Linked DNA regions of Homo sapiens: region 1 is linked to region 2. Evidence: fine-mapped expression QTL. A gene starts in region 2. The other region holds a variant in brackets. All regions are shown on one strand. Distances are between the middles of the regions. Region 1 has its middle 34 kb from the start of TMEM17. Region 2 holds the start of TMEM17 (transmembrane protein 17).

Region 1 (9,731 bases), 35 kb before region 2:
GATTGCAGGATCCCCAGGTGGTTCTCTTGTGCAGACAGGATTGAGACCCACGGATCTAGTCCAATCCCTTCATTGTGTAGATAAGCAAACTGCAGCCCAGAAAGGAGAAAGGACTTGCGAAAGTCCCACAAAAAGTCCCTTCCTACTTTAACATTCGATGAACATGTGAACTTGGAAGCACTATAGAGACTTCTGAAGTGTCTTTGTCAAAACACTTCTGGGAAAGTTCACCCAGGAGCCAAGGCCTCATAGAGATAGAGTGGGCTCTGCCTCAGGTGCCAACTGAGCACTTGTCTCTTCTGGTTCAGTCCTGCTTTGTTCTGCTTAGTCTCATTGAAAGACTGAGCAGTAATGACCCTGTTTGAATCCTCCCAAACTGCGTGTCCCTTTGGTTGAAAGTCAGCGGCTCTGTTTTCTGGCTGCAGGGCCAGGTGGAGCTGTGATGATTCAGGGCTGGGAAAGTCAGGGTTTCTGGCCTAAGGAGCTCCTCTAAGCTCCAGAGACATGGAGGCCAAGTAGTCTCAGAGGTTCACACAGTCTGCAAAGGCCAGGTGGCAGGGCCTGGGGTGGTGGGTGAGCTTCCCTGCAGGAGCATGTGGGCATGCCATCTCTCCTTTTTTTTTTTTTTTTTTCTAATCAGAAAACAGATGCGAATTGTGAAACCAAGTGTTTGTTGACTCAGGACTCAGGACGTCTTTCAGAGGAAGCAAATCCTCGGGGTACTCAGCATGCCCTCTGCTGGGTCTGGTTAGGAAGGCTTGGGGTTGAGGAGTTGTTAGTGGTATAACAGTAGCCCCAGAGTTTGATGTGGCTTTGGCAAATGTGCAGGGGGCTGGAGTGATTCCCTTTCCCTCCTCTAGGAAAGCCCCTTTCCACTTCACCCCTGCTGGGTGAGCCCTGTCCTGGTGCTCTTCCACGTGACTCTACAGAGGCAGCCAGCAGCCTTACTGGCTGGCTCTTAAAGAGGCTGCGGTTTGGCCCAGGGCTGAGCAAAGAGAGAAGGCCGTGTGTTCTCTAGCCTCAGGAGAGCTGGGGGCAGGGTATGCCAGCACATCCCTGGACTAGCCTACACCCTGTCAGGTTTTCAAAGCATGGAAAAGACCCTAAAAATTAGAAGATTGGGACCCCACATCTTCGTTTGACATTTAGCCTGAAGTCCAAGGGACAGTCATCTTTGGCCCCTTAAAATATCAGTGACTTCCAGTGGAATTACAGTTGGGGTCCTGACTTGAGCTGTTGATGTTTTTGTCACATCTACGTTTAACCTCTAGATTGCTAGATAGAACTGTGTGTATGTGGGTGCATGTGGGTGTTGGGGGAGAGGGTTGTCACAGTGGACTGAGTGTTCACCATAGAGAGAACTTGGAGACACAGGGGAGAACCAAAGAGTAAAGTCCCAGACTGCAAGACCCTTATGGTTCAGCTGATAAGCAGACAGTCCCATATATGTGCAAGAAACCAAGGATGCTTGTATTTGTGTTTGCCAGCAAGGCCGATTCAGGGGGCTGAAGCCCATCAAGTGTGGCTGTCAGAGAACTGGGGGATGGCTCAGAGGTGGGAGGGGACTAGCTAGAGGCATGGTAGCTAGAGCTAGCAGAGTTTGACAGAGCCAAGTGTTGTCCTTGGAACAAGAACCAAAGGTAACCTAGAAGCCCACATACCCCATTTCTGAATGCAGACCATGGGGTCAATTAGGGTCTATGTCATGTCAGGCCCAGCAATGGCAGCCACCCACCTCTTTTACCCTCTGTCATTGCATCCCCAGATGGCCAAGCCAAACAATACCTTTACTGTTCCAGGAAATGTACAAATGCATTTGATGATATTTCAGGTACACATTTAATTTTTAGTTAGCATAAATGTGTACACTATACAGGCAACACTTAGTACAGAAGAAGGTACATACCTAAATTGGCTAGTGGCATATTCCAACCTCAGGTTCAGGCCAAATAGAACTGGTTGGGCTTGTGGAGATTGCTAACCTCTTCCCTCAAAGAGGACCCAGGATGGGATCAGGGTGGGATGGGACATGTTATGCAAGGCTGGGAGGTCACCTGACCCCGTCACATGTGTGATCTTGGGGAAGTACAAACTTTGCTGAGACTTTTTACCTTCATTTTCAAACTGCATGGGCTCATTTAGCTTCTTGCCAAGATCTTTTCAGCTAATTCTTTTCTTTTTTCTTTAATTAAAAATCCAGAGATTGAATTGCCCTAGAAAATGCAAACATTCAATGGTGTTGCCAAATTAGGATTTCTTCTCCTCACTTTCAGAGCTCTTTCCAAGGAATTTTATTTAAAGAAAACAAACATTTACAGTTGTTGGTTCATCAGTCTGCCTGTTGCCTGTTGCCAGGTGTTGGGAGGCAAACAGCAGTTTGAAGACTATCTGGCTGTTCTTCTGAGTATAGTTGCTGAGGTCAGGAAGATAGAAGGACAGAAGGAGGCACATTCTTGGCTCCTGAGCATAGGAAAGTGTGCAAGGAGGCCCAGGTGGCTTTTCTGTTGGCTGACACTTTGCAGTCTTTGAGAAGACGCAGTGTCTGGTGCTCTAGAAGCAGGCTGTCTCCTGGCCATTGGCTGCCTGGGCAGCCTGGGTCCTGCTGGCTGGCTGCAAGTTTGTCTCAGGTTGTCTGATCTCTTTCCTTTCCGCAGTCCCTGAGAGAGTCCATCCCCACTCCAGTCCCAGGGCCTCTGCCTTTGTATCCCCATGTTCCCCGGGCCTTGATCCACATGTCCAGCATGTCCTCTCATTTTCCTGGCCCCTAAAGAAAAGTTCACCCCTGAGCCAGCAAGCTGCTCCTTCCTTCAGGTCTTGGAGCTCTAAGAAGACACCCATTAGTTGGTTTGTTTCCCTTTGGCATAATTACATCTTGATTAGTCTGCTTCCTCCACTACACTGATTAATCCTTGGCTGGGGGCACCTTTCCTCTGTATTATGAGCACTTCTCTCTCAATCTCTCCACCCCTAGGGTATAATTCCAAGGTCCTAAAGTTCCTCTTCCAAATCACAGGATCCTGGGGCTGGCTCTGGAGAGAGTTAAATGGGACATTGCACTCAAAGACAAATCTACTGTAAGGTTCTGATCTGAATCCCGAAATCTACATGTTCCCATGCAGAGTTCTCAATTCCTGCTTCCTCAATTCCCCTGCCTGGTGTGGCTGCCCTCAGAGGGATAAACATTCATGAGCAGATTTGGGCTCATGCCACAGCCTGTAGTATTTCAGGTGAGTGCAGTGTCGATAGATGAACATTTTCACAAGTGCAGCTGCCTTCAGCTGGATGACAACCAGCCCTCACCTCCTTGGCCAGAGGCCCAGGCACACAGGGTCCTCAGTCACTCACTGTGGCTGGCCCACCACTGGGGGTGGGGTCCACCTTGAAGCAGCCTGCACAATCCCACCAGCTTCTCTTCACCTTCTTGCATTCTCCCAGCAAGACCACAGCCCCTCACAAAGAGCTCCCAAAGAACGGTCCAGGGGAAAATTCAGCTGTCTTTATTATCTCCTGTTCTCCAAATGGCTCATGGGAAAGAGATCAGGTCAACTTCATTTTCTCTCAGGAGGAACACTGCAACCAACACCCTTATTTAACTTAACCACTCCAGTTCCAAGGGCTGCTTACTTGAGCCTGTCTTGAGAACAGAGCCTTTGGAGCAAGCAAAGCCTGTTTGCAAACAGTGAGATGTAGGTCCTCTCCTGGGGGCTACAGGCTGCTGCTTCTCAAAAAGAGGCCACACCAAGGGAATGTGAGCAATGGAGAGGAAGCTCAGCCTCTCTCCAGATGCAGGGTCTGGACTGCGGGTTCCAGGTAGTGCCCTTGGGCCCCGTGACCTGAGGAGCTGAGAGAGGCCCACGAGCAATCAGCAAGTCACTAGTCTTTATTAGGCACTTAATGCGTGTGGAGGGTTGGCAGAAAGGCTGTAGGTAGGGAAGCTAAAATGTCCTGGCCCGTCTTGGGAAGCTTAGAACCAATTGGGGAAGTAAGACCAACACAGAGAGCAGTTAGAGTACATAAAGGCCACTAGCTCACTCTGTGACTCTGGGCAATGCTCTTAACCTCTCAGAGGCTCCATTAACTCGTCTGTAAGTTGGGGATAATATTAACAATAGCCAAGCCAAGGCTGGACCAATCAGGTGAATTTTTTGAGCTTCCTTCTGTTTCTAAGACTGATGACTCTGTGAGATCTACACTGTACTTCAAACTTCTTGTTCAAAGGAGTTCAAAGAACGGTAGCACTTGTGGGCTAAAATGGTCAGAGATTGCTTCCTAGATTGGGAATTCCTTGCAGGTAGGGCTGGGGAGTTTAATCTTTGTGTCTCAATCCCTAGTCCACTCCTGGAATTCAGCAGGTGCTCAATAAATGCACCTATCCTGAAGGAGTGCTGGGGAGGGGGAGGAGCTTGGTCTGAATCTTGAAAGATTAGAATTTGTCCGGTGCCTAGGAGAAGGGAGGGCCTTTTGGGCAGGGGGCAAGGCTGAGGCTGGAAGCCAGGGTAGAAACATGGCATGGATAATGGCTGTGGGCTGGTGTGCCTTGCTGTTTGTTGACAACTTCTGCACAGCAAAGCATTTAATGTCTGAACTCTTCTCCACGGGCTGCTGACTATAGTCGTCTATGGTGTTTCAGCCCATCTGGCAGAGGGACTCTTGGCCCCATTAACGTGCCTTTATCTATATTGGAAGAGCAAGAACTCAGATGCGGAGTCAAGGACCCTGGCTGGAGTGGGGAGCAGCCCAAAGCCCCAGGAGCAGTAGTGCTGAAGCCAACCTTGGCGGGGTTTCAGCCTCGGCAGCAGGTTGCTGAGAGTGTGGGTGGGAATACAGATATTTTGTTCAGGGAAGTGGGAGGAATTTCGAGTTCTTTTTGGAAAATAGGATAGGTTAGCTCATTTATTACTCATCCAGTCTTTTAAAGGATAACACAGACTTAATGCTAATCTAAAAGTATTTTCCAACAAAAGCTCTGAAATGTGAGAGGGACACAAGAAATGTCACAAACAGCTCCCTTTCCAGCAAAAGAAGGGTGGGCATGAAGAACCATAGCAGAGTCTTGGGGCTTTCCCTGCAGCCTGGAATGAGAAGCCCTTCATGGTCCATGTCTATTTGATTACTGCAGACTCTAGGCTTTCCATGCACCACTGAGGAAGTAAAATCGAGGGAGAGAAGGATATTTATTTATTGGCTCTGGCTGGCGTCTCCCCTGTCTGTCTCCCAAATGAAGCTATTTGGGCTCACTCCAAACCTTAGGGAGTGGACAGAGGCTAGTCTGCTGGGGATGGAAGTTTTGCTGGCTGTCATTCCACTCTCCCAACTACCCAAAATCCAAAACAGATGTATTTCCCAACCTTCCTGATCCAGACTCAGATGCTCAAGGTCAAGGGG[A/C]TCTCCTCAGTATTATTTCTGGTCTCATGGACACTGGGCAATGGGGTGGTAGATTGCTTTTGGGTTCTCCCAGGTTTTAATGTGTCTCTCAACCAATGCCTAGAACTATGTTAGGCATAGTTGGGAGATAAAGAAAATGCACAAGACAGAATTGCTTGCCTCAGGAAGCACATGGAGGTTTAAGATATCAAGATCAACACATTCAAAACAATTAGAAGTAGACTGTGTCAAGGTGGCAATTAAAGGCAACTTTCTTAGAGCTCAGCCGTGGCTGGCCTATTTTGGAGACACAACACACACAGAAAGAAACTCAGGAGTGTCTGGGCTGAGAGATTCTTCAGGAGGCCAGAACTGCCTCTAGCAATAAGAACCAAACTCAGAGATGGGAAAACTTCAGGATGCAGGAATCACAAAAATCAGGTGGCTTCTCACCTAGAGATGATTTACTATCCCCTCCCTCTCCTCCATTAAGAGAATGTTAAATAATAGCCAACATTTATTATGCATCAGGCACTGTTCTAATTGCTTTAACAGAAGTAGGTCAATTGATCCTCTGAATACCAGTGAAGTAGGTACTATTATTAACCCCTATTTCTGGATAAGAAAACTAAGGTACTGGGAGGACCCAACCACACCGCCAAAACCCAGAATCCAGAGTAAGGTTCCTGATCCCAGGCTCAGCTGCTCCCTGTGGGCCAAGCTGAGGATCTGGCCAGGACTTAGGAGGTGAGAACATAGTAGAGACTGCAGCAGAGATGGTAGCCTGAAGCAGAGATGGCCCCTTGGAAGTTCTGGAGGGATGCAGAGATGTCCTTTCCTGGGAAAGTAGCCAAATCAAAGAACTCCCACCCAAGGCCTCTTGGCTGCAGAACCAGCTTTACCCCTCTCCTCCCCACTCCCTGCTTCAGCTGCTGGGAGTGAGGGAAGCAGCAGAGGATTGCAGCTTCCCCAGGCTTCTTGCTGATGAAATATCTCATCTACACACTTTCCTACTGTTTACACATCATGGTGAGCAGGTGGGCAGACCACAGCCATGCAGATTTTCAGACAGCCTCAGGAATACCAGGACTGGGGCTGGTAGGCAGAGACTGTATCAGCAAAGGACATGTTGGTGGAACTAATGACCTGGTAATTTCCACAAGGGATCACAGAGGGATGCTGGACAATGTGGCAGAGACTCTGCTTGCTTTGGAAACTTTCAGAAGAGAAAGGAGGAAGTAGGTCTTCTTGGAGGATCCCAAGCTTGAACTGATCATTGCAGAAAGAGTGGAAGTAAGAGGGGCTGGGTGTGAGTCTCCTGAACAGAGACGAGAAGGACTCTGCACAGCCACAGGACCATCCATGCAGGGACCCAGGGAGGCCACACTGAGGATGGGGAGGGGCCAGAGTGGTGGGGTGGAGAGGCCTTCACTGTGAGCTTCAGGAGGGCCTGCTTGTCAGGCTTTGGGAGTCCTCAAAGAGCCTAAGAAGGGAGCTGCTGCGTTCTCCACAAACCCTTATTTTACTTGTTTTGAATAAAACTGAAGCAAAAAAGGAGAGAGAATCCTGATTTTCCTTTTATAAGAGACAAAACTTCCAAAATAGTTCAGTTTTGCAGTCCAGTTGCTTTGATAGGAAAATTGTGTGGAGAGGGATATTTAAATGAGATCTATATCTGTGGTGAGAATAGCTCCATTTCCCTGAAATGTTTGCAGCCACAGCATTCCATGTCCACAGGCTTGCAAATCTCTCCCAAAGCTCAGCCCACAACCTGCTCTTCAACCCACGCTGAAGCTGCGTCTGTCTCCAGAACAAATAATACTATGTCTTTCTTCAGGCCATGAAAGCACGGTAACGTTCCTACATAAAATAGCAGCAGCTAAGGGGTCTTTGTTGAATTAAACAGGAGGCAGCAAATTCAGGACTAGATAATGAACACCTACTGTATGGCAGCTACTGGGGAATACAAACATGAATAAGACCTTACCCCTTGAAGAGGATCAGAGGGCCGGTGAACCCATGGGAGACACAGCCCAGGGTGCCCTGGGGGCTGGTAGCATGACAGACTTTTCTAGTTTTGGCTCTGAAAATTCCACATCCCAGGAAAACTACCCTAAACCCATATCCCCAGTCCCAGTTAAACTGGGGCTATTATTCATCTTCCGAGGGTCTCTGACTGTTGGAATCTGTTTCCTCATCTCGTTCCTTGCCTCTATCCCACCCCTGCAAATAGGCTTTTGAAATAAGCCAGCATTTAACTTCAGATAATAATAATGATTGATAATGAAACTAAAAACAGCAACAGCAATCTACCCTTGATGATAGTTCACCACCCCGGCTGCCTATTGGAATCACTTGGGACGCTTTTTAAAAAGATCAGCACCCAGGTCCTATCTTAGAACAATTAAACCTGATGTTCTCCAGGTGCTTTCCATGTGCAAGCAGCAGGAGAAACACTGCCTAGGGTTTAGGATGCTGCAGGAGAAGCTCCAGGAGAAGCAGCAGGAAGGGGGCTGCCCAACCCTGGTGTATTTCCTGGGGTGTTTTCAGCTTCTGAGCCAGACCAAGGCCACTCAAGGATGGTGAGGACAGACCCGGCAGGTCCTAGCACAGATGCTAATTTGGGAAGCAGCCTCTGAGCCGCACCACAGGCACTCCACTGTGTCTGTCCTGTCTTGGGGCACAGCGGCAGAGGCATGCCCACGCAGCCGGGCTCAGCGCCTCTTCGAGAGGGACCGCTGAGTGCGGCTGTCCTCTCCAGTGGGCCCGGGAACCTACGAGAGTCCCTGCCCACCCATTTCCAGCCCCCTGGCCTTGCTTCAACAAGTCACGCCTGGGCTGTTTTCTAGGCTGCTGCTCCCTGGCGGTTCTGGGTTTCCCATTTGTCACCTCCGTGAGAGAAATTAACAGTTTTGCCAGACCCCATATAAACAGGAAGGCAAGCTGTTAACAAGAGCCTCCTGCCCTGCTGCCAAGCCCAGAGCTCACGTTTCCTTTCTCAGAGCCTGTCAATTGTAAAGAGGAGAAAAGAAAAGAATGGGCTCTCTCTGGGCACTGTATGGGTTCTCTTGCGGCCACTTGAATGCCAGTGTCGGGCTCGCTGACAGCTGGGTCTGCAGCTGGCTGGTTTTGTCTGTTTTTTGAGGGACAGTCAGGGATAGCCACTGATTAAATCAGGAACAAAACATGACTACACTTGCGGCTGTGCAGACCAATGCTGCTGAACAGCAGAGAACAATTAATTGCCATGTTGTGGAATGTGTGGATGGGGGCGGGGAGGCAGTTGGCAAATGTAAGAATGTGCAGGAAAATGTCAAGCAAATGCTCGTGTTCATTAGAAGCTGAGGGAGAGGGAGCCAGCTCAGTGTGTTCCCAGGACCTACCACGGTGTCAGAGCTCTGGCCACTGCCTGCGTGCCCAGCAAGCAGCCTTCCCACTGGGGGCGGTCAGCCCACTGATGTGCTGCAAGGGGGTCATGCTTTGTCAAATAAGATAGGGAGCCCCTCAGCTCTTGGGGTGGCAGTTGTATCCATTTTCTTGAATATAGGGCACAAAAATGCCCATTTTCTATGTATGTTGTTGCAGAAAAAGGCTGGCTCCCTGCAGGTTTGCTGTGGGCTTCACTCTAGGCACTATGCAGCATCTACTGTGATGCTCTGGAAGCTTGCAGCCTGACTCTTATCCAAAAACCAGACAGGGAGGGCATTGGTGGGAGGCAGCAGTCCCTCAGCCTTCCACTACCACCAGGTAAGAAGATGGCTGCTCTTCAGTGATGCAGATTCACAACAGCTTCTGCAGAAAGACAGGAGCGGGAGGCTATGTGGATACAGGCACTCTTCAGCTTATGATGGAGCTACACCCTGATAAACCCATTGTAAGTAAAAAATATTGAAGTAAAAAATGCATCTGATACCCTGATAAACCCATTGTAAAGTTGAAAAATCCTAAGTTGCACCATCATAAATCAGGGACTATCTGTATGTATTTAAGCTAGGGAAGTGAAATGCATTCATATATTAAAAGAGATGGAAAAGAAGAAGAGCAAGAATGGTATCCAAAGGGGTCTGGAATAGCTGTGAGATGGTTTGGGGCCTGGACAAGGGGAATTTAGAAATTGTTGGATGCTTTTTGACATATCTCTATGAATGTTAAAGACTGAAATTCCTTTTTATAAAAGCTTTATTGCTTGCTGAGCTGTGTATTGGACTTCCTGCTGAGACTGAGCCCCACAAGGCCCTGGCATTTATTGGGGTTACAGAAGAATGTTATCTTTCCTATCCTGTGTCCTCCCTGGAGAGTTGAGCCCCAGATAAGGGATGGTGTGCAGGTGGTTTATTTGGAAGTTCTTTGGGAGGTGATCCTAGGGG
Region 2 (9,731 bases):
GTTATGAAAACTGATTTCATTTATATCTATCACTGAGAGAAAGGAAAAAAGAGCTTACCTTCTCCTGTAGGTTACCCACGTAGCCCAGATACAACCGGATGGCTTCAATTAAGGTTATTAGGATGATAACAGTGATCACAATGAATTTGTAGTAGTCAGGTAAGATTGAATACTAAAAGAAAAGCCAAAACATGTTTGTAAAATCTCATGTATAGTAACATTGATTTAAGATAGAAAAAATTATTAAGAACTTGAATTTTATTGACACTCTAACAACGTCAGGGCAGCAAAAGTATTAAAGCTTAGATTTACCTTCATGTGAAGCATCATAATGCTGCTCACCCACCACAGTGGGAAATAGTAGGTATTAAAATAAAGTGACATCTGCAGTGCCAAACTGGAGACCATTTCATTTTCTACAGAAGGAACAGAAAAGGAACAAATGATGAATCTTGGGTTTATGCCCTATATATATATATCCTATTCCCTAGAATTAATAACTATAATATTGGCTCAGTAAAACACCAAATTTTATGCCTATTTATAATCATTGACAGTAAAAGGAATATTCATCCTAATACCAGTTAGGTCAAATATTGGCTATTTGGGGGTACGTTTCATATTTTTCAATTATTTTACCATTTTGCCATTACAGTCTTCTGACTTTTTGGCATATACTACTGGTATAGATTTAATGTAGAATATCAACATAAATCCTATTCAACAGATAATTATCATTGCCTCTTTTGTAGAATTCTATGTAAATAGCATATAAAATTAATGCATAAAATAAATAAAAATGAATCTCCCACAGATAAACTAATCTTATACAAAAACGGATTACCAAGGTTATAATTAGACACATCTCTCTTTTCAGCATACCCTAATCTTAGCCATTCTTTAAAGTCCAATTCAGTGTCATCTTTTCCATCAATACTTCCTTCATCAGTTCCCCCACCTCAGCAGAAATACCTTTCCCCTTTAGGTACTTACCACTCTAAACTGTCAATAAGAAGTGCTAGCAAAGAACCACACTCCCCTCCCCAAAAAACAGTCTGGTGTACTGAACAGATCATGGGCTTCAGAGTTCAAGCAAATCCGAGCTCCCCAAACCTCTGTGACCCTGGATGTCAGACTTGACATGAATTATTTAAACTCTTTGAGCTTCTATTTCTTCATCTGTAAAATAGTGAAATTAAAACTTCCTCACAGGCTGTTTGTGAGAATTAGAGCCAATATAAATTATTTCATCCTAGCACTGTGCCTGGCACACTTAGTAGGCACTCAACAAATATTAGTCCTCTTTCCTTCTTCTCTTCTACTTATCTACAGGCTCATTGCAAGCACACACCATGTCCTACCCTAATTTGAGACCCTCATAGAATCTAGCATCTTGCTTTCCACGCAGTGAATATCAAATACACATAAGAATGAATTAATGAAAGTATACTGTCATAAGGACATTACTAGCATAGCCATTTGTGATACATGAGTTCCATTTACCTAAGGTTGATTCCATAACACTTTCTGCTTTTATGTAAGAGAGCAGGGTCCTAGATTAAGAATTTGATTTTTAAAATTGAGCCCTACAAAATACATCCTAAATTTGACTAAATTCTTAAGAGCAGACACATATATTGAAATCAGTTGCTGTACACGTAAGATTTTAAAGGCTCTAAAATAAATGTCTTAAAAACATTATTTTCTCCTTTTCTCCATAGCTGAGTGTTTTTATCTGTCACTTAATTATTTTAAAATATAAGAAATAGTCATGGTCTCTCACAGCAAAATAGTTTCTTTTAGCTCCAAGAATATGCCTGATTATTATGATCTACTTTTGCTTGCAACTGTTTATTAAATTACCACTGATAAAGGAATGAATTCTTAAAATCTGTTAAATCTGAAGACAACTCACCAGCCTAGGATCTTTTCGATAGCAACAGTACAAAGCTGCGGACATGGTAATGACATAAACTTGTTATTACAGTACAAATAATCAAACCTACTTCCAATCCACAAAGAAGAAAATTTGGGAAAGAATAATAAATTGGGCAAGCTGAACATTTCAGTACCTTTGAGAAGAAACTGTAGTCAAATTTTGCAAAGAATGGTTTTCATGTTAGAAGTATTGTGTGTTAACATCTTAAAGGTTATGCTATGTCCATATTTCAGCAGATCAAACTTATAATCATGGAAATGAAAATCAAATTAATATGTAAATGAACCTTAAAAGCGTAAGACATAAACTTACTAAATTTTGCAAAAGTTCAAGTTGAGTTCTGTAAATGGAATTTAAATTAAAACATACAATATAAATCAGGGATAGGTAAACAACTGGCCAGCTGCCTGTTTTTGTACAGTCAATGAGCTAAAAATGTTTTTTCACGTTTAAATGGTTAAAAAAGTAATATTTTTTCCACACGTGAAATCCATATGAAATACAAATTTCAGTGTCCATAAAGTTTTATTGGAACACAGCCCTGCCTATTCAATAACTATTGTCAATGGCTGCCGTGGAGACCATATGGCCTACAAAGTCTAAAATATTTACTATCTGGTCCTTTTCAGAAAACGTCTTTTTACCTTGTATTATCAGACGTTAGTGCTCATTAAGCCTCATCCTTGGAACCAGAAACGTGAAAACCTATTTTTTTCACATTTTTCTCTGTACATCCTAAATCATAAAGGCCTACATTTGGGAAATAGGCAAGTGATCAAGGTGACAAAATGCAGCTTTGGGAACTGCCTTTACTTTTCTCTGTCCCTTTTAAAAATTCTCTAAAACCAAGCAGAGGAAAAGATTGATATTTCCCAGCAGAGTTGAATGATGAAAACCACATGGGTTTGGTTGACAGTGTGTTGTCTACCATCATGATGTAGGAGGAGGAAACTGTTCTGGAGGAAACTGTGTTATCACTTGACATCAAGTTAAAGGACGCAGAAGCATCATGGTATTTTGTTACCTTATGATAAGAGTTACATATAGGGGAGGAGGAGAAGGCAGGGAAGGGGTGAGTTTTGTTGAACGCCCGGCTAGTATGGCACATGCCAGTGGGAGTGGATGGTGGTTTGAAAGGACTCATTAACTTTTTTTTTTAATGTCTTCTACGAGAAAATGGCCTTGCTTAGGAACATACTTGTTCTGCTAGGAAAAGGGAAAAGGCAAATTTGTTCCCTGGGGTGGGGGTGGGGACGGGGGAGGTGGGATTGCTTGGGCTATTCCTCGTCATCCTGGACAGAAAAGCCGGGGCGGGCGCCGCAGAGGCAAAACAACTTGGGCCTTCGCTCTCGCGGCGCGCGGGGGACCAGCCTGTGCAGCAAGGGCGGCTTTTATCTTTTTATTTTTGGGGTTTCTCCGGGACAATGATGGGCCTTGCGCGGCACAGAGATCGGCCCCACGTCAGCTGCCGCGCTTGCAACAAGCTGGCCAGGGAGCACCACGCGGAGACCAGGCCCGGCCGGGGGCGGGAGGCCGCCAGCGCCTCAGCTCCCTGTCCGGCCCGGCCCCTCCTCCAAGGCGCTCTCCCGCACTGCGGAGAACTGGCTGAAGGCGACATCGCCATTTTAGGTACGGGCAAATTCTGGACGCTCCAAAATCCACGCCAAGCCCTCGGCAGGCCACACCCCCTGCACCGGGCCTCGGTCACTCACCCGGACCCTCATTGGACTCTGGACCGGTCCGATTGGAATCACTGAACACGGCCCGGCTGAAGTTTCCCAGCCGCTGGCGCACCGGATCCGGCAGCTCCATGCCTGGGCCTCAGTATCCCTCACCCCCTCAGACACGGGCTAGTCTGCGGGCGCTCCGAGGCTCCGTGGTTCCCACGGCAACCGGGCGGCGCGAGGCCGGCGGGACCCGGGAGCGCGCGGGGCTGCCCGGCTGGGCTGGGTCTCGTCCGGAGCCCGCGCAACCTGGAAGGGACCGGCGCGCTCAGAGCGCGTTCCAGGCCCAGGGAGCCGCGCGCCTCGGCCGTGTACAAAACGGCAGATCCCTTAGTTCTGCTTTGAGCTCGACCATCCTAAAAACAAACCTATACTAAGAAATGAGCTGGGGTTGGACTGCGATACAAGGAGCCCTCACATTTGCCAGTGGAACTGTAAATCGGTACAACCTTTCTGGAGAGAAATAGAGAACGAATGCAGAGCTTAAAGAATGTCTAGAGGTGTAGGGGTGTGTGTGAGAGAGAGAGACATCATGTGACTGATTATTTTTTAATAAGAAAACAGCAATGGGCAACTGATTAAATGTACTGGAGCACATACATTCAATGGAGTATGTTTCAGCTGCTTATAAAATGCTTGCAAAGGATATTGAATGGTATAGTTTAACTTTATGTAAAAATACAGCAGAAATAAAACTAAATGAGAATGAACCTAATTTAGCAAAATTTATGTGTATGAGTGGAGGGGAGGAGAGAGCGTGTGCACACTGGCTTGAAAAAAAGAACTGGAAAAAAGTCCAAAATGTTAACAGTCGTTTTCACTGGATAGTGGGATTGTAGGTGATTCAAAAATTTTTAAACGTCTTATTTTCTAGCTTTCTCTCAAGATATATTACTTAAAAAAAACTAAGTGTAATACACATACAGAAAAATTGTACACCTTTTGTAAGTAATATATATTACTTAAGAAATAAGTGTAATATATATACATAGACTGAAATCTGTATGTGTAATCAGCACCCTGTTCAAGAAACTTTACAATATTCCCAGAAACTCCCCCTTCCTATTTCCTTTCAGTCACTAAACCCACTCCTCACTCATAACTGACCTTTCCTGAATTCTAACAGCAAAGGAGAGTTTTGCCTTTTTTTTTTTAAATCAGAACATTTATTGTGTGACTAATCTAAAATTTTTTTTTTTTTTTTTTTTTTTAGACAGAATCTTGCTCTGTCACCCAGGCTGGAGTGCAATGGCACAATCTCGGCTCACTGCAACCTCCGCCTCCTGGGTTCAAGTGATTCTCCTGCCTCAGCCTACCGAGTGGCTGGGATTACAGGTGCCCGCCACCACACTCGGCTAATTATTGTATTTTTAGTAGAGACAGGGTTTCGCCATGTTGGCCAGGCTGGTCTCGAACTCCTGACCTCAAGTGATCCACCCGCCTTGGCCTCCCAAAGTGCTGGGATTACAGGTGTGAGCCACCGTACCTGGCCTGAAATTCTTAAGATGAACTGGATGCTGCAGCAGCTGTCCTCTTGGGTTTAGGTGGCATTCCTTTAAAAAATCCATGCCTTAACCTGCTGTACACAATTTTTAAGTGCCTCATTCGACCAGTCCCACTGGTATATTTTTTAGCCTCGGCACTCCAATTATACTTTATCTTGGCTTGGGAGGGTAGCCGCGTTTGCCACAGGCGGACTTTTGAAGGAGTTAGAGTCACAGGGCAGCACTAGCTGTGCATCTTATCGCACCACTTTCTAGATGATGACACTCCCTTTGTCATCTTGCTTCTGTTTTGCATATTTATATAAAAGCAATCATACTGTAAGTACTTTTTTAAAAAACTGGCTTTGTCTTCAACATTACTTTCATGAAATTCCTTCATGTCATTGAGTGTAGATTCTTTTGCCTTGCTCTTTGTGATCATACCACAATAAGCTTACTCATTCTACTGTTGATGAGTGTCTGTATTTTCTAGTTTGGAGCTGTTGTGTATAGTGCTGCTTTGGGGAAAAGATGCCTCTTGGTGAACATATGCATGCATTTTTGTTGAGTGTATATCGAGAGTGGAATTGCCGTGTCATAGGATACGAAAGACCCAGCTTTAGTAGAGGCTGCCTACAGTTTTCCAAAGTGATCAAACCAATTTCTGCTGCCTCCAGCAATGTGTGAATATTTCCATTACTCCATATACTTCACCAACACTTGTTATTTCTTATCCTTTCCTTTTAGCCCTTCTGATGGGTGTGTGGTAAAAGTATTATTTTTACAATCAAAAGGAAAATTACACATTTATATAAATGCAAGAAGAAGATATGGGTGGAAATAAGTTCATGACTAGAATTTTAAAATAATTACACAAACGTTTATTGCATTCCTACTGCTTATTTGGATATCGTGCTAGGCTAATTAGGGATATGGTCCCTCCTCATCAAGAAGCACAGCTCAGTGAAAGAGAGACATGGAAACAAGTAAGTGCAAACACTGTTATTAGACGTGCTCTATTAAAGGACCACGTCTTTTAATTATTAAAGAAGCAATTAATTCGGGTTGAGGATGTCAGGGAAAAGCTGGTTAACTTCTGCTTCATTTCAAGATGGAGTTCAGACCTGAGAATCTCCAAAAAGGCTTCTAGGACCTTCCTGAAATAGCTTAGGTGCTCTCTTCTGTGTTTCCCAAAGCATCTTCCTCTTGTTTCTTTGGTCACAGTGCTGGTCACTCTATACTAAAATTGTCTGTTTATGTGTCTGTGTCTCTTGCTAGTCCTCAAGCTCTTAGAGGTCAAGAATGGACTTTCATCTTTATATCCCCAACACTAGCACAGTGTGGTACCTGGCCATGAGTAGGAGCTGGATGACTGTTGAGTGAGTAAAAGGAAGAAAAAGCCTAATGACCACTCTCTTGTCTTCCCCTTCTAGTTCAAGGACTTAGCTAGCCCTTTAAAAGGTTCACTTTGTAAAATGGTGAATTGGTGTATTAAAACATAGTGAATCATAACAATTTAAAAAACCTTAGCAACAGAGAATCACTTTTCATTTATCAAATGAACCGAGATTTTTTATAAACGGAACAGTGAAGCAGGAGGCCTCAGGCTCAGCTGTTGAATTATAATTTGGCCAACCGCATTGAGACAAGTAATCGGCAATGTATAGAAATAGCCTTTAAAACGTTCCTGCCTCCTTTAACACGATAAAATCTTAAGGCGTGCTCTATTAAAGGAAAATAATCATAGAAACAAAGTTTTATACACCAAATGCTTCTCCAACATTATTGATAATTGTTTAGAAAAGAGGGGAATGGGCATTTGAAGTGCCCAACCACAGGGCCTCATTAAGCAGATTACGATATTTATGGCAAGGTGTTGGGCTGCAGTAGAAAGAATGTCCTTGGAAGCTGAGAGGGCAGGGTTCAAATACCCTAAAATTCTCGATGTACCACTTAACAGCTGTGTGACTGATTTCAGATACTCGTTTTGTAAAGTAAAAATAATGATATCTTACTGTTGTGGTTGATGTGATATTATATCATTAAGGCTCTCTATACATGATAGCTACCATTTACACATCAATTAAAATGAAGTTTATGAAGAAACAACACCTAGAGTGGAGTCAAATAATGCTGGTATTTAATTTTGTAAATTCAACTGGACCTGCTAGGTAATACCTCTGTTGCTTTCCTAATAAAGACAGTGGAGGCAGTTAAGCATTAAAGCACTCCATTATGTTAACCAAAAACCTATGTGAATTCTTATCAAAAACCTAAGTGAATTATTTTAAAGATATTTTCCCCTGGCATTGAAAAAAGATGCAAGATACCTTCTTCAGATTGTAATTATGTTATCAAAATCCTGGAGGAAAAAAAGTGATAGAATTATGGGTATTTTTCCTTCTAATTTTATTATTCAAATTTCCTATATGAGCGTACATTTTCTAGTTAGAAAAAAATCTTGTTAAAAATAAATTGAGAGGAAGAGGCAATGATGATGCAAAAACATTAGAGAAGATAATTTGAGAGGAAAAAAAATGTGGTTTGGAATGAGTCCTGCCATTATTGATGTATCATAAATGGTCCAAGGGGCTCAAAAAAACTTTCCAAATGTTATCTTATTAGTTGATACTCCCAATATTTATAGGCAATTACATTAGAAATACTAAAGGAGATCCTTCAGTGTTTCACTAATGTGATTGCCTATACAGGTGGGCATCCACATTCATGAAAAATGAAGAATTGTATGATTTGGGTTTCCCATCTTCTAGACCTACTACTTACTTAGGATCTAAAGAAAGAAGTATGGGCCAGGCACGGTGGCTCACACCTGTAATCCCAACACTTTGGGAGGCCAAGGCGGGCTGATCACAAGGTCAGGAGTCCGAAACTAACCTGCCCAATATGGTGAAACCCCGTGTATACTAAAAATACAAAAATTAGCTGGGTGTGGTGGCGGGCCCCTGCAGTCCCAGCTACTCGGGAGGCTGAGGCAGGAGAATTGCTTGAACCTGGGAGACAGAGGTTGCAGTGAGCTGAGATCGTGCCACTGTACTCCAGCCTGGGCGACAGAGTGAGACTCCGTCTCAAGAAAAAAAAAAAGAAGTACGGAATCTCTGTACTTAAAATCACGGGAATCATTTTAGGTTAATGAATAGTCCCATAAAGTTTAAACTGCTTAGTTCTTATACCAGTGTTGATGTTCAGAGTAATAGCTGTTTCTGCAATAGTTGTTTAATGTATTTCTTGGGGTTTAATTACATTTATTGTTTGCTTATTTGTTTTCACAAACATTTTGAGACTGATGCAATGATTAGCTTCCCTTTGATAAGGGACCATGTTGTCTGGTAATAATGTATTACCTTATATGACAAGAAACTGATTTGGGGAGTTATTTATTTATTGAGATAGGGTCTCACTCTGCTGCCCAGGCTGGAGTGTAGTGATGCAGTCATAGCTCACTGTAGCCTCAATCTCCTGGGCTCAAGTGATCCATCCACTTCAGTCTCTCTAATAGCTGGGACTACCGGGGTATACCACTGCACCCAGCTAACTTTTTTTTATTTTGTAGTGACAAGGTCTCCCTATGTTGCCTAGGCTGGTCTCCAACTCCTGGGCTCAAATGATCCTCCCACTTTGGCCTCCCAAAGTGCCAGGATTACAGGCATGAGCCACCACACCTGACCTCAGTTATTTAAATTACTCCTTGGCATAAAAAAAAATTCTTTCCACTTGATACTAATAAAGAGTTTAGAAATATTTTTAAGTAAGTATGTCATTCAGTTTATTGCTTTAAAATGAACTGAGAGACATTTCTCAGAATCTAGATAAATTTAAAAGATAAATTATATATTTGGGTATAATATATAATTATGATGATGATATGATTCCACATCGGCATCCACATTAAAAAAATCTTACTCTAAATTACCTGAAATGTAATCTTAGAATCCTCAAATTGTTAATGGATAAGCAAAGATTTTTTGATACAAGTCCCTGGTACAATATATTCTATTCACAGCACTTCTCAAAGGTTTATAAGAAAGAATCAGGCTGTGAATTATACAGAAAGCAAAATCTCATGAAAGGAATTTTTATACTATATTAAGTGATATTTCAAGGCTGACTTTAATATTTTGTCTTCAGAGACATCTCCATTGAGAATTTTTATTAGAAAATTCTTTCCCCTTTAAAATACTGTTTATATAATAGTTTTTTGGTTCGGTGGCATTTCTTTGTGTTGGTCTACCACACTGCTCACCTGCTATATGAAGCAGCTGCTCCATGCGTCAACCATGTGGGAGATGGGAACGTCAAGCCGAGGGAAGAAAATCAGTAAAGCAAAAACCCGCTTAAGGAAACCTCAGATCTGTCAAGTGAATTATGATACTGATTAGAAGCAGGTGGTCATTTTACGGAATAAGTAACATGTTCCATTTTTAGTAGTGATGTCTTACTAAACTAAAAATATTTTATATATTACACTGTGTAAAGTATAAATTATGTTCCCCTTTCTGGAAGAAAATTGACCTGTTATTGACTGTAATAAAATATTGCTTTCCCCACAGTAAATATTGATACGTT

The links. PIP is the estimated chance that this variant, and not a neighbour inherited with it, causes the effect.
Region 1: its variant is fine-mapped to the expression of TMEM17 in thyroid (GTEx, PIP above 0.99).

Annotation. Positions count from the first base shown.
Region 1 is chr2:62,467,270-62,477,000 of GRCh38, forward strand. It overlaps a transcript of TMEM17 not described here. Among named protein-coding and RNA genes, the nearest start is that of TMEM17, 34 kb to the right of the region's middle. RefSeq lists an enhancer at 8,347-9,079. The variant A/C (reference allele first, on the strand shown) is at 5,386.
Region 2 is chr2:62,502,379-62,512,109 of GRCh38, forward strand. It overlaps TMEM17 (transmembrane protein 17), which reads right to left and starts at 3,817. Exons shown (of 4, transcript NM_198276.3): 1 at 3,652-3,817; 2 at 313-416; 3 at 59-172. The coding sequence starts at 3,751. It also overlaps the pseudogene RPL37P13. RefSeq lists silencers at 2,716-3,010, 3,348-3,517, 3,728-3,997.